2 separate regions of the Homo sapiens genome follow, and region 2 is linked to region 1. The links come from fine-mapping of genetic effects on gene expression. Tissue or cell type: whole blood. Region 1 holds a variant in brackets; the other region holds the start of a gene. All regions are shown on one strand. Distances are between the middles of the regions.

Region 1 (8,110 bases):
TTCTTGGCTTTCTGAATATTCATGTTGATAAGTGGTATATGTGTTCTTCTGAGATAGTGAAACGCCTCATAGAAAGTGTTCACCTGGGCAATTAAATAAATTATAAATTGACTGATTTCATTCTTTTCTAACAGTGTTTCACAAAAGAATTGGAAACCATAGTCCTGAACTCTCCCTAAGTAGTATAAGCTTTAAATAGCACTCAATCCATATTAAGTCTTCTTAGTGTAGCATGGTTGCTCTCATGCGTCTTTCTTATGTTTTAAATGGTGTAAATTTTAGTCGTTTGTCATTCAGAAGTGGCTTTGCAAATACAAAATACTGAGATTTTTTTAATGTTAGATATTTTTTATTTTAAAATGAGTTTCATTTCTGTATTTGTTTCTGTCTCTTTGTTTGCATTTTTTAGGCCAACAAGCTTGCTAGTATATATTGTTTGCTGACCTTCATGCCACAAGTCCACTTAGCTTTACAGAATAATCATGTGACCTTGATGAACAATAGAAAACTTAGCTTTTAAGTTTGGTACTTATTTAATTAGGCAGTTAAAGGCAAAATTGTCAGTTTATCTTGTCAAAGAAATATTAAAAGCCATCTTGGATGGATTTGTTTCTATAGAAAAGTAAATGGTTTGCTTTGTTTTCTAATTCTTGAAATAGAGAAAATCATATTCATAGGAATGATTCCATCATCTCCTTAATACAACCAGCTGTGATAAAAAGCTCTATAAAATATCTGCTTTTATCAACTAAGAAGTAGAATGGAATTAAGTACTTCAAAGAAGTGGCTTTTTGTTGTGACTTAAGGTAAAAGTAAAAAGTACATCTAATATCTCCTGATATACTTCATTGTTGTATTGAAAAAATTATTTTAGATGCATTTGCTTTTATCTGACAAAACTAGAGAAGGAAAGATTTGTTCTTCATTAGTGATATTTAAAGATAACTTTTTCTTACTGCTTTGAGCATAACCCTTTTTTAATTTTAATTTTCCTGAAAAAAATATTTTTTTCTTTTAGCCACTTCTGCCTTAATAAATACGTCAGCATAACCTTTTTCTTTATGATTAGCTATAACATGGATGTGACACCCCTGCCCCTGTACCCATAGTGATGTCATGATGCAATGTGTTTGTTTTATTTAGTTCATATCTGATTATCTATCTCTTGATCTCAGCTGTTACTTTTAGGTATGCTTGTTTTACTAATCTCTAGAACAGTACGTACAAATTGGAGTAAATAAACTTTGAACAAAGAAAGCATCTATAGACATCTATAGATTGTACATTTTAGTACATAGTTGTTTTGTATATTTTGACTTCTCAGATTTTTTTCTTGGCTCTTGGCTGTATTCAATATAGTTAATGTAGCAATTCTGTATTTATTTTGTAGATACTTATAAAATCTTTATTTGTAGATTTGTTTATGTAATTTCATTTTAATAAGACTGACGCAACATAAAATTTGCTTTATTATATCACAGTATTAATGAACCAGGTATATCAAAAAGATAACGCCTTATCAGTGATGATAGTACTTGCATTTTGTGGACAAATTAGAGGTTAAGGGCAGAATGCTAATTTATTCAGCGATAATATTCCATTGCATTAGCAGGAAAAAGTAAACCTATGTACTTACACTAGAGATTGTCTAATGTAAAATTTACTGTAGATGGGAAACTGAAGTCTCTGGAATTTAAGGAACTTACCATGGTTATATAATTACTTGATGGAAGAGTTATTATATTCACTGGAATTATTATGAGTCTGTGACTACTTCCAAAACCAAAAGATTAGAAGAAAGATATGACAGACTTTTTTCAACCAGGTTTGAATGTCATTAGTTTTTGTTTTGGGGTTGAGCTTTAGGAAATTCTTTTTTATTTGCTTTGATGGCTAAAAACATTTCTGAAACTCATTACTATGTTTTTTTCTTTTTATATGAAGAGAATATTATAGCACTGTCTTGCTTCAGTCTTAAGTACTTTATCACTTTCAAGCCTTTCCCCATTGGAGAAACTGAACCATTGGAAGTTAAGTATTGTGCCCAATGTCATACAGCTAGTAAATGGTGGCGCCAGGGTTGATAGATAGTCTGACCCCATAGCTTATTCGCAGGTATCCCTCTGCCTTTATTATAAGCAGTTATTTTACTGTATTATAATTTTTGTTTGAATACCTGGCTTCTCTTTAGACAGTAGCCTTTTTAAAAGAAAGGAATGATAGGGAACAATGTCTTTTCATGTTTTTATCCCTAAATGCAATGTGTTATGTAACAGGTAGGTACACTATAAATATTTATACTATATATATGCACTTTGTTTTTGTTCTTGTTTTTGTTTTGAGATGGAGTCTCGCTCTGTCTCCCAGGCTGGAGTGCAGTGGTGTGATCTCGGCGCACTGCAGCCTCTGCCTCCTAGGTTCAAGGGATTCACCTGCTTCCACCTCCCAACTAGCTGAGACTACAGGCATGTATCACCACGCCCAGCTAATTTTTGTATTTTTAGTAGAGACAGGGTTTCACCATGTTAGCCAGGTTGGTCTCAAATTCCTGGCCTCAAGTGATCTGCCTGCCTCAGCCTCCCAAAGTTCTGGGATTATAGGCATGAGCCATCATGCCCAGCCTAATATTTATATTTATAAGAGGTGAATCCATTATTATTTCTTAATTGATTGAAAGGATTGCCATCTGTCAATCTAAATAGTAATCATTCTGAATATCTGCTTTTTTGTTTGTTTTTGTTTTGAGATGGAGTCTCACTCTGTCGCCCAGGCTGGAGCACAGAGGCACCATCTTGGCTCACAGCAACCTCCGCCTCCTGGGGTTCAAGTGATCCTCTCACCTCAGCCTCCCAAGTAGCTGGGATTACAGGCATGTGCTACCACACCCGGCTAATTTTTGTATTTTTAGTAGAGATGGGGGTTTCACCATGTTGGCCAGGCTGGTCTCGAACTCCTGACTTCAAGTGATCTGCCCACTTCAGCCTCCCGAAGCGCTGAGATTACAGGCATGAGCCACCTCATCTGACCTGAATATGTGCTGTTGTTATAGGTTCTATAACCTTAGAAAATGTGGAAGTCAGCCTGGATGTATGTTGCAGAGTGAAAATGGAGCAAGACTACCTGGTTTCTAATCCTCACTTAGCTACTTAATGACCATTTGGAAGGAATTTGGCTTCAATAAAGTACCCCAGAGATACTCTTATTACTTTATGTAAGTTAAACAAGAGACAGAATACTTTGGAGAAAGGCTGTTAAGAAAGTAGTGAAAATCGGCCTGGCACAGTGGCTCACACCTGTAATCCCAGCACATTGGGAAGCCGAGGTGGGCAGATCACCTGAAGTCGAGAGTTCAAGACCAGCCTGACCAACATGGAGAAACCCCATCTCTACTAAAAATACAAAATGAGCTGGACGTGGTGGTGTGTGCCTATAATCCCAGCTACTCGGGAGGCTAATTGCTTGAACCCGGGAGGCGGAGGTTGTGGTGAGCTGAGATTGTGCCATTGCACAGCAGCCTGGGCAATAAGAATGAAACTCCATCTCAAAAAAAAAAAAAAAAAAAAAA[G/AG]GTAGTGAAAATCATATAATTTTCTGGAGAGAGGGTTTTCATTCCAGGTCTCTAATTATTATTACAAATAATTTTTTCAAAGTCAGCAATTAGTACACAAGTCAGAGATGGCCAGATACATAAGAAAATATGACATGAATGAGAAGTAACTGAAACAACAAACAGTAGAAAGAGGCTGGTAAGGCTTCTTGGATATTAGAGTGATCCGATACAAACTAATGTTTTTAAAGCTCTGTTTACGGTTTTTAAAAACATAAATGCAAACTTTCAAAATGGAATTATTTAAAATAGCCTGTAGATTTGTGAAATATTAGGATATAAATTTTAGAAATGAAATTAAACATAACCAAAATTTAAAACTCGGTGTACATACTAGTAGTACATTGGACATACAGATGAAGATAGAATTAGTGAAGAGGAAAGTAAGTCAGAAGAATTATTCAGGATACAGCAGGGAGGGAAAAGATGAAAAATAAAGAAGTTGAGGCATGCAGAATAAAAGGGAAAAAGCTGTCTTTTTTTGGTCATAAATAAAAGAAATAGACAAAATAGGATAAAAAGTCTTTAAGTATAATGGCTATAATTGAACTGATCAAAGATACTAACCACAAATTCTCAAGAAAACAAATTAAAAAGAAACTTAAACCTAAACACATCATAGTGAAACTACAGACCATCAAAGACAGAGGGTGAAAACACCCAGATTTCCTTCACAAGAATAACAACAGTTAAACTCACACCTGTTTGACTTCTTCACTGAAACAGTAGAAGCTACAGGTGTACTTCAGGCAAAAGGAGAGTGATTTCAGATGGAAAGTCTTAAGTTGTAAGGATAAACAAATAGCAAGGGCTATATGGGCAAATTTAATGCACACTGATTCTAAAGCCAATACAAATAATGTCTTTTGGAGTTAAGAAGAGAGAGAGATTTGCAATATATGACAGTTATTGTGTATAAGCTGGAAGGGAGGTAAATAAGTTCTTCCAAGGCCTTTGTATTTCCCAGAAGGAGAGTAAATTAATAATTAATTTTAAACTTTGAAAAGTTAAGTATACATATTTTAATTTCTGAGTGTAACCACTAAACACAATGATTAATTTATGTTTTTAAATCTTAACTAGTTTATAATAAATAGAAGACAAGATAGTAGAGGACAATAGAGTATGGGAGGAACAAATAGAAAGTCCAAAATAAGATAAATATAAATCTAGGTAAGTCAGCAATTATATTGAGTACTAATGATCTAAAGATTAGTATTAAAAATAATCCAGTACCTGCTGTTACAAGTGACATATCTACATATAAAAGAATAAAGAAAAGTTGGGGTAGGGAAGGACTAGGGATAAAAAGCAATGCAAACACTACTGAAAAGAAAGTTCCTGTATCTATTGATACCAGACAGAATAAATTTTGAGGCAAAAAGCATGAGTACATTATATGCCCTCAAAATATATAAGGAAATTTTATAGAGAACAACATGGAAACTAGATAAATCTGTACTTATATTCTTCTCTTTGTAATTGAGGGAGAAAAGGACAAAAATCAGTAAATACATATCAAAATAGAACTTCTCTACTAAGAAATGTGTGTTAATGGACAAATATAGAACTTTATACCCAACAACTATAGAATATACCTTCTTATCTAATACATATGGTATATTTATAAAAATTGCTCATATGCTGTGCCATAAAGTAAGTTTCAACAAATTTTAAATTATTAAAATTATTCAGAACATATTATCTGACCTTATTTTTTATGTTAGAAATCTATAACAAAAAGTTCAATAAAAATTCTGTTATGTTTAAAATTCAAAAATATATTTCTAAATGCCTCATGGATCAAAGAAGAAATCAAAATAGGAATTGGAAAAATAACTGACTTGAACAATTATGAAAGCATTACATATCGAAATTTGTGGAATATAGCTTTAAAATCGTGATTAAGAGGAAATGTTTAGCCTTAAGTGCATATTTTAGAAACAGAAGGGAGAAGAAAAATTAATGAGCTAAGTATCTTTCTTAAGTTCAAAAAATAAGAGCAAAATCTCCAAAAAGAAAAAAAGACTATAATAAATGTAAGACTAAGAATTAATGGAACAGAAAATACACACACTAGAGAGTTTCAGTAAAGCCTAAAATTCTTGGAAAAAGACTGATAGACAAACCTGTGGTATGATTTATTATGAAAAAGAGTGTTACTGCAAATCAGTAGACAAAAGGTGTTTTTTTAAAACCTTAACTCTGATACAATTAGCCAGTATCAAAAATAAAGAGATATAACTATAGTTGGAGCCATGTATTAAACATGTAAGAGAATATTGTGAACTTTTGTATGCTGATGTACTCAAAAGTTCAAATGAAATAAATTCTTAGTAAATATAGTTTACTGAAATTGTTCTTAAAAGAAACGGAATATCTGAATAGTCCTAATAACCATTAAGAAATTAAATCAGAGGCTGGGCATGGGCATGGTGGCTCATGCCAGTAATCTCAGGACTTTAGGAGGCCAAGGCGGGTGGATCACTTGAGGTCAGGAGTTCGAGACCGGCCTGGCCAACATGGTGAAACCCCGTCTTTACTAAAAATACAAAAATTAGCTGGGCCTGGTGGCATGCACCTGTAATCCCAGCTACTCAGGAGGCTGAGGCAGGAGAATCGCTTGAACCCGGGAGGCAGAGGTTGCAGTGAGCCGAGATCGTGCCACTGCACTCCAGCAGCCTGGGTGACAGAGCGAGACTCCATCTCAAAAAAAAAAAAGGAAAGAAAAAAAAAAGAAAAACAGAAATTAAACTAGAAAGCTCCGGATTCAGGTAGATACCGAGTTCTACCAACCGTTAAATGAAAGAATAATTCTAGTCTTGCACAACTGCTTTCAGAGGATGGAAGTGGAGAGTGAGAAGAACACTAGTATTAGTATAACTTTGACATGAAATTCAACTGAAAGAGATTGTCCTATAATTTTTCCAATCAGTAATGAATATGGATTACAACACTCCTTAATGGTAGTAGCAATATCTTTTTATAAAGAGGACAATGCGTTATGACTAAGTTGGATGAAAATCTAAGAAAGCAGGATTGACTTAACATTAGAAATAAATGTGGTTCACTACACTAACAGATTAAAAGCAGAAAAAATAATATGATTATCTTAATAGATGTGGGAAAAGTTTTGATGAAATCCAAATTTCGTTTTGTTAACTCTTAGAAAACTAGAAGGAGTGAACTTCCTTAAATATCTGTATCAGTACCTGTTCCAGCTGGACATGGTGGCTTATACCTGTAATTCCAGCACTTTGGGAGGTTGAGGTGGGAGGATTGCTTGAGCCCAGGATTTGAAGACCAGCCTGGGCAACATGATGAGACCTCATCTCAACAACAACAACAACAAAAAAGTCAGGCCTAGTGACATGTGTCTCTTGTCTCAGCTACTCAGGAGGCTGTGGTTGAAGGATTGCCTGTTACAGGAGGTCGAGGCTGCAGTGAGCTGAGATCACACCACTGCACTCCAGCCTAGGCAACAGAGCAAGACCCTGTCTCAAAAAAAAAAAAAAAAAAAACCAGAAAAATAAACCCTGTTCCTTAAATATATATATTAATATATGTACCAATATCAATATCTATATCCAAATATATATATAAATACACATATAAAAATATATCAAAAATCTACATTAAACATTGTACTTAATGGTTAAATATTGACAGTTTTGAGATTAGAAACAAGAATGCATTCACCATTTCTAGGCAATACTGTACTTTAAGTGCTAGATGAATAGAACAGATAGGGTGTGCAGAAACAGACCTACACATTTGTGAACATTTGACACATATGGATAAAAGAAGTTCTTTTCGATAAATGGTGGCAGGTCAGTTGGTGTCTAAATGCAAAGAAAGTGAAATTGTACCCGTATATCACACTGTACTCAAATGTCAATTCCAGGTGGATTGTAGATGTAGATGCAAAAAGTAAAACTACATTATTGGAAAATATTTTTATGACTGCAGATTTAGGGAAGAGTTTAAGACCCCAAAGCATTAACCTTTAAAGAAAGAGATTGCTAAATTTGACTACATGAAAATTAAAAGCTCTTCACCAAAAGAAACCACATAGCCTGTAAAAAGCCACAGAATAAGGAGATGTTGACAACAAATACATTTGGCAAAGGACTAGTATCTAGACTATATCAAGAATTCTTATATAATAAGAAAAGATAGACGATTTTTTTTTTAATGTACAAAAGGTCTGAAGACATTCTTCACAAAGAGGAAATTAGCCAATTAACATGAGAAAGTTCTCAACACCATTAGTAATCAGGGACACGCAAACTAAAACTTCACTGACAAACTACTGTGCATCCACCAGACTGCCAAAAATATTAAGAGTTTTTCAATACTGAAGTTACTACGGTTATGGAGAAAAGAGAACTTTTGCATAGTTTGGTATAAAGTTTAAGTTACACATGCTCTGTGACCCAGGATTCCTCCTTCTAGATTTAAACCTTAGAGAAACTTAGAGGTGTCTACCACGATACATTTCCAAGA
Region 2 (8,110 bases), 940 kb after region 1:
GGAACAACTTATTAACCTCTCTAAGTCTGTTTATTCACCTGTGGGTAATACCATTAACATCTCCTTAATAGATTTGTGGTAATAATTGAATGAGGTCTTCAGTGTAGAGAGCTAAACACTATGCCCATTTAAAAAGTGATTGCTGCTGCTCTATCTTCCCAGCCCAGGGGGTTCTTGGACATTCTCCCCGTGATGAGTGCCCCTCTTCTGAAGTGGGGGTAGAATGTAGTGGTTTCTTAAAGAGGATCACTCATGTTAGGATCACTGAGCTTGGGTTTTAATATCTGTATGTATGGGACTGGGTTTTAGAAAATGAATTTTCTCATGACCAAAATATTAGTCCTCCTTTTTTCCCTTAGATGTAAGGGGAAATTTTACAAGTAAGCTCAGTTAATTTTGGGAGGGCCATCTGTGAAATCTCAGGCATTTATGGCATAAACTCAAATGTTCTCTTCTTTCGATTTCCTGGAATGGTGAACATGGAGTGTCTTAACTTGTGTATTGAGCATGGTTTAGGAGTCTGTTGTCAATTTTACAGTCTTTTGACCTCTATATATTTGGCATGCTGAGCTTCTTGCCATTGATCTAAAGTACCAGGCCCATTCATACACATTGTATACTTTCCACACCTTGCTGAGAATTCTCTTCCCTTTCCTTTTCATCTGAAAAATTCCCACTCAGTTTTCAAGTACCAATTCACATGTCTCCAGCAGTGTGAAGCTTTACACTTCCTTTTGGCCGGATAAGTTGCTCATTCTGTCCTCCTTGCTCACATGGCACTTTGTCAGCTTCTCTAAATTGTACTAGCCAAACACTGTCATAATCCATTTACACATAAGTCTCTCCCAAAAGGTCAATTTCTGAGGGCCAGGGACCATTTCCAGCTGTATTTCTCCTCCTTCCCTGGCTCATTCCCTATTTCTCCTCACTTCCGCTTCTCCAAGATTGTATCCCAATAAAATGTTAGCTCATAAACTATTGTCTCAGGCTCTGTTTTCCAAGAATCTGGACTAAGACATATCACTAGTGCCTGTTATAGGGTAAAAGCTTAAACACTGACTAATAAATAAATGAAAGTAGGCACCCTCAAACTGACAATTATTTCTGAGTATTTAAATACCGCAATGCATAACAGTACAAGTACCACTTGTAGGCTATCTAGATTTAGCTTTCTACTCCCCTAGGTCTTGTTGGAATCCAAGGAAACTTATTTCCTGGTTAAATTTATTTGTAAATGTAAACCAAAATTGTTAGTTTATGAAGTAAATTTAGGAGAAATTCATTTTACTCTTATAATAATTTTTTGTAACTGCACCAAACTTGGTTCATCTGTAGCACCACGAATGAGATCACAGGCTTTGTAAGGCTGAGCTGGAGTAAGGGAGGTTTTCTTACACCATGTTGTTCCTTAAAACCACCTAATGTTTCAATGTAACTGCCTTGATAGAAACGTTTTTGCCTTCATACCTCATTTCAACTGATTTTTTGTGCCCCAAAACAGTCAATTATAGGTTAAGTACCGTACGTTATTGGTTTGACAAGGATGGCCAGGAAGTGACAGTAAATAAACAAAATGTAGCCAGGACAGGAAGGCAGCGTCTGAAGACAATTATGACAGATGCTCCCTAGAGAGTTGTTTCCATCATGCTGCAAATGTGAGGTAGGGTTAGGGAGCCAGAATCAGCTTGAGTAAAAATTAAAAAAAAAAAAAAAAACTCAATGGGTGGCTCTGAATGTGGCTATTGGGACTAATAATATGGATTCTGGGGGCAGAATACCCTCAGAATGGTTCATATAAGTTTACACGTTGGCCTCTCTGTTGGCCTGGGACTGACTTTTTCTCCCTCCTTGTGTAGCACCGTGCGTGGTGCCTAGTGCATGGCACACAGTAGGTTTTCAGTCGATGTTTGAGAGAATGAGAGGTTGTGGAAGCATCAGTTCTTATTGATGTTTCTGTCTGAGAGTCTTGTTTCTTCCAATTTTATAGTCCCAAAACAATTGGCTCAAATTTCATTTAAAACTCATGCTACAGCTGGAACCTGAAAATCCTTTCACTCATAAGGTTCTTTGATTTCTCACAAATGGAATAAAGTCCTATGGGAGAATAGCTGTTACAGGAATTGTTCAAAGCCTGTCCAAGTTGGTGGGCCTCACATATTACCTATTATGTGTTTAGTTCACACAACTAAACTTTTCAAGCATTATTTTCTGTTCTTGGAGGCTGTTCTATTTAACTCCCTTATATTTACAGGTATACTAGCATACTATACATTTTCTTAACTTCATAGTACAATTTTTCTCCTCATACTTGAAAAGACAGTTTCAAGATAATATAGGGCAGATCCTTACCTGAGTGTAGTGGCCACAGACTTTTTTGCATATCCGAGTCTTGAAGTCATAGTCCTGGATTTCGTCATACCAGTTTGTGATGGCGGAAGACACAGAAAAAATGGGCACAGACCCAGTCCAGATGTTCTCTCCCAGTGAAGTGAAGTTTGGGTGCAGCTTGTGGGGTGGCTTCAGCCGTGTATTATGTGAAAACTGGCAATTGCTGGCCCATGCTTTTGCAATTTGGGCTAGTGCTGGGTCCCAAGTCTGCAAAAATAAACATTAAACAATAGGGGGTTCATCTGAAATGTAACTGGGGTGAGTACAGTGGGAATTTGAATGGAAAACGAGGTGAGATAAGGAGAGAAGATACCACTGCATATGAGTCCTCTATAAATATGGTCTTCAAGCACTGAGTAGGGCTGGTAGGAAACGTGACAATTTAGTTTCATGGAATTTAGAATCTAAGTGAGGAAAACTGACATTTCACTGAAGGCTAATTGTGGGCAAAATAGTGTGTGCCGTGTTTCACAACATTATTCCATAACCACAACAGCCCATATCCTAAGAAGTTCAGAAAGGTTAAAAACCAGCTTAAAGCCACAGATCTGAAATTCAATCCCAAGCCTTACTGAATCAAAATCCCATCCTTTCCCCAGATGCCATTCTGCCTACCTGAGCAACTCAGTACTTTGTCAGCAGCAAAAAAAGTAAATTTAGAGACAAAAAAAAAAAAAAAAAAAGAAAACCAAATCACAAAAATTAACAGGGAGGAAGATAACAAAAAGAGAAGTAAAATCCACTGAAAACCAGAAAACAGGAAGTGTCCAAAGAGAAGTAAAATGTGCTGTGGCACTTGCTTATAACAACAGTTGGGTAGACAGAGCTAAACTGGATGTGTTTTGATCACAGACTGTGAATTTACTGCATACATTAATCACAATGAAAAAAAAATCATTCAGTATTACGAAGGTATTAACACCAAAGTCAATACACATTAGTTGTTTCTGACTGACTGACGCCACAATTAATGATATTTTCCTTACCATGTATAGCATATCACTGGCTGTTGGTTTCACCTCTGATCGGAACTTGTTATGGATTCGAACGCAGTCTTTGATGAAATCTTCATTTTCGATATCTGGCAAAATATTTGCTGTGTGTGAATAATTGGAGACAAAAGAAACCATCCAGGCTATTGTAGCAAGTGTGACACGCATGCTTTGTCTGGCATGGAGCCTTGGGAGGCTGCAGTCCAGAGCCGCCGCAGTTTCTGAGAGTGTGATTGCCTGAGTGCTCAGCCCACAGCTTTGCAAACCTAGCCGACTTCAGCTTTGAGAAAACAGAACAGAGCATGAGTTCATCACTAGTTTTAAGAAACGGGTTTCTCCATATATGGTGTGCAGCTCACTTTGTGTTCTTAACCCTGTCTTTTCAGTGGTTTTCAGTGACACAGCACCTATTACGACATAGATTTTTATGAGGCTGTGTCAGACTTCCTTTTGAATTGGGAGATATTTCCAAAGAAAATTCTGAAGTCTCCAGGAATAATAGTCTCCAATTTTTAATGGAGGTTGCGGTGATAAAATGAAAATATCTCTTACTTCTATAAATGCCTCGCAAAATGCTTTCAGAAATCTTTTTCTTTTTAGAGTCATATCAACACATAGTGGTTGGAATATCTGGTTAACATCATAAACTTGACCTAGAATTCATTCACGATGGTAGAAACATGTAAGCGTGTATGTGTGTGTGTGTGTGTGTGTGTGAGAGAGAGAGAGGGAGAGAAAGAGAGAGAGAGAGAAAGAGAGAGAGGGATTGAGAGGGAGAATAGTAGAAAGAATACAGGACTCAAGTTGAGAATTTAGTTTCTGTTTCTAACTAGCTGTAAGACCTTGGACAGGATACAAAACTCTCTAAACCTCAGCCACCTATTGAATGAGACTATGGGACCTTTTCTGCTTCCTTAATTACAGAGGTTTGGCAGGATCAAATGAACTAGCTAATATTAAATTCCTGCCTTGTATATTCACCTTAGTAATACAGAAATAAAAACACAGTCACTGGCCCCAAGGAGCTTACAGTGGTAAGAGCTGTGAGATGGTGATGACAAGGATGTTACAACAGGGGCTGTTGGAGATCTGGATATAGGAAAGCACAGGTAGATATGGACACACAAGAGAGCATACTTAACCCATTCTGGAAACGGCAGAGCCGGCCTACATACAGCAGGTGAGGTCTTTGCTGAGGCTAGAATCAGCTAGGTGTTGATCAAGTGAAAAAGCGCTGGAGAGGAGAAGGGAATTAGAGGGATAGGAACTATATATCTAGTTGTGAAATTGAAGACATGGTGTTATGGCAAGAATAGAGCAAGAACCTCTCCATATTGTCTCCCTCTGTAAATATGGTCTGTAAATAAGTAGTGATTCTGACTGGTAGAAAACTTGATACCTGGTGTCATGGAATTCAGAATCCAAATGATGCTTTCATGCCACTTGGGGGAGAGAAGTTAAGAGTCAGATCAGGAAGGATTTCTCAATTCTGCTAATGATTTTTTATTTTATCACCAAAGTCATGGGAAGTTATTGGAGGATTTTAGCTGTAGGTGGGGTTTAGACCTGGTTTTAGAAAACACGTGTATTTTAGAAAATTAAGAGAGATGGAAAATGGAATGAGGTGGGGAAATATTTCTAATGCAAACAAAAAGTAAAGAAACATTCCAGGCACACCTGTAGCCCCACCTACTCAGAAAGTTGAGGTGGGAGGATAGCTTGATCCCCACAATTTGAGGCTGTGAAGAGCTATAGTCAGGTCACTGCAATCCAGCCTGGGTGACAGAGCGAGGCCCCATCATTAAAAACAAACATACGGGCCAGGCGCGGTGGCTCACGCCTGTAATCCCAGCACTTTGGGAGGCTGAGGAGGGCGGATCATCTGAGGTCAGTTGTGCAAGGCCAGCCTGACCAACATGGTGAAACCCTGTCTCTACTAGAAATACCAAAATTAGCCTGGCATGGTGGCACATGCCTGTAATCCCAGCTACTTGCGAGGCTGAGGCAGGAGAATTGCTTGAACCTGGGAGGCGGAGTTGCAGTAAACTGAGATTGTCATTGCACTCTAGCCTAGGCAACAAGAGTGAAACTCCATCTCAAAAAAGCCCAACCAACCAACCAAACAAACAAAAACCATTACAGAACCATAAGGCAGAATTACTATTGCCACACACACACAAATAACCTTAAAAATACTCATACATAAATTCAAATTTTGTCCAGGCTGCCTAATTTCTACTAGCATGTCTTTACATTATAGGAATCTGAGATAAGCAGTGTCTTATCCAGGTCTCATAGGCAACTTTTTGATCAATGTAGTGACAATAAACAAAGAGACCTTTCTCCAGTTTGAAGTGGTAACCATGTCTAAGGCCTGCTTCTCATCTTCTTCTGGGTCTCTGTGAGCTAGACTGAGTTTTGAATACAACAACAAGAAAGAGGAAACCCCACGAGCAAGCAAAATCAGTGGTTTTTTTGGTTGCTTGCGTAATCCCTGTTATACACATACAACTCCCAAGAATGAGCAATGTTATCTTGGTCTTGAAATGATTTAATATTTTTTCTCTACTTTCCTGAAAATAATCAGCAAAAGGGAAAGTCTGCCGTCACAGAGATGATTTTTGTGTTATTGTGCAGACCAGGTTAGCTCCTTAGAGCTACAACTCTAAAACTTTTCAATTCACACTACACGTTTGCACCAAAAGTCCAGAGAAGTGGTTTGCCACAGAACAGGAACTTTTACTTGGAAGCAAATGTAAGCCTGCACTGCTTAGAAGGCTTTGAACTTTGCTATGACTTTTTCCACTTCTTAACCCAAGTCTTCACCATGATCTCTTTGATAATTATGCACGTGTGTTAAGACAGAGAGATTGGTTTTTAGTGCTCATCACTCATGGTAGCATTTTAAAAGATTTTTAACTTTCTTTTTAATTCTTCTCTGTATCGTTTAATTTTTTTACAGCAAGAACATGCTATCTTTCATAGTAATAAAATAAACTGCAATTATTTTGGAGAGTCATGGGATCTTTAAAATCATGCACAAATTCATACATATACATTGCCTGATAAACCCATGCATAGATAAAAGACTAAAGGAATATCCACAATTTCAGTATTGTGGGTAATACTGCATAATGGACTATGTCTCTCTATCCCCGCAAGCTTTACTCAAGTGTCTTATAAAAAGCAACAGTTTGTGTAGCTAGAGATAATCATTTATATTATGTGGAAAAATCTCAACCTTGCTATACTGTTCTAAATATATCAATTTATATATATGATGAGCTTTTTTATTTCTTGGGGAGAAATGATATAGAATTTTCTATAATCCCACACTTCCTGATTAGATTCCAAAAACATTTAGGCTCCAAAACCTCTAGCCACCTATTCTACTGGGGCTATGTGTTGGGTGTGGGGATAGACAAAGATAAAGGATTCAGAAAGAGGGAGGGGCTATATTTATTAAGCAAACATGTCACTGTTACATTGTTGTGTGATGATACTTTAATTTGGTATAAATTAGTTTTACGTATGTGACAATGTACAAGTTAACTGTAGTCCATATTCTAGAAGCAGTTAATTAGTGCTGAAGTACTCTAACCAAGAATCCACACTCCAAAGGTGATGGTTAACACTTCAGATATGGTTATGGAAATTGATACCTGAGAGTTTGTTAATTAGAACAGGGCATGTTAGAGAATCATTTTCACTGGCAAAATGAGTAATTTTCATGGTGAATGGCTTGTGGGGAGATTGAACACAGCCTCCTGCTATTGCATGAATGAAGTATAAAGAAGCAGACATCCTCAGATCTCTATTACTGCTGGTGTAGTGTTCAAGGGAATTGCCACCTCACAAGAGGTCCCCGTTTTCTGCCTTGACTTCAAGGCTGCTAGTCTTAACTTTAGAATGTCTGTTTAGTGAGCTTACCATTGGAGCGTCTAAGAGTAGAAAGCAGGAATGTTTCTGTAATTGTTTGCTAATGAATGTTAAGACATTTAGCAAAATTTGTCCAAGACTTACTTTCATAATAGCATACTATCAGGTACTGGGTTTGTAAGGGAGGGGAACATAGCCTTTGCATAACTCAGCTCTAACTGCAAGAGGCTTCAATATTTATCAAAGGAACCTGACATTTGAGGCCATGTTAGCTTAGGTCAGTTGGCAGCAGTGATGACAAGCACCAAACCTTTTCAAATTCATTATCTCACTATGCTCTCATAATAATCTTGTGACATATATATGTGTGTATATATATGTATGTGTATACACAAAATTATTCCTATTTACAGATGAAAATATTGGGACATAAAGAGGATAAATAACTGGACCAGGGGAATGACACTAGTAAGATGTTAACTTAAGGTCTCATTGCAAATCTTGTCTGTAGTTGTTAAGAGCACAAGTTCATTAGACTGTCTGGGTTCAAATCAAATACCCTGTACTAGGTGTATGAATGGGCATTTTGTCTTTCTGTCCTTTAGTTTCCTTATCTGTAAAATAGGAATGATAATATTACCTCCTTCATTGGATTGACAAACAAATTTAAATAAGAAGTTATTTCTAAAAACAGATTAGGTAGTGCCTGACACAGGGTAAGTACTATATATACCAGCTATTATTATTATTTCTTTTCCTTTATTACTCTAGGTATGCATAAGTGCATTCCATACTGATAGGGTTTGGCTGTGTCACCACACAAATCTCATCTTGAATTGTAGCTCCCATAA

Evidence for each region. PIP is the estimated chance that this variant, and not a neighbour inherited with it, causes the effect.
Region 2: GLIPR1 starts here. The variant in region 1 is fine-mapped to the expression of GLIPR1 in whole blood (INTERVAL, PIP 0.99).

What each region holds. Positions count from the first base shown.
Region 1 is chr12:76,413,466-76,421,575 of GRCh38, reverse strand. The region is part of intron 4 of OSBPL8 (oxysterol binding protein like 8); the gene reads left to right. Among named protein-coding and RNA genes, the nearest start is that of BBS10, 69 kb to the right of the region's middle. The variant G/AG (reference allele first, on the strand shown) is at 3,566.
Region 2 is chr12:75,476,319-75,484,428 of GRCh38, reverse strand. It overlaps GLIPR1 (GLI pathogenesis related 1), which reads right to left and starts at 3,674. Exons shown (of 6, transcript NM_006851.3): 1 at 3,375-3,674; 2 at 2,350-2,595. The coding sequence starts at 3,548. GLIPR1-AS1 (GLIPR1 antisense RNA 1) reads left to right here. Exons shown (of 2, transcript XR_007063373.1): 2 at 1-975. RefSeq lists an enhancer at 1,357-1,406.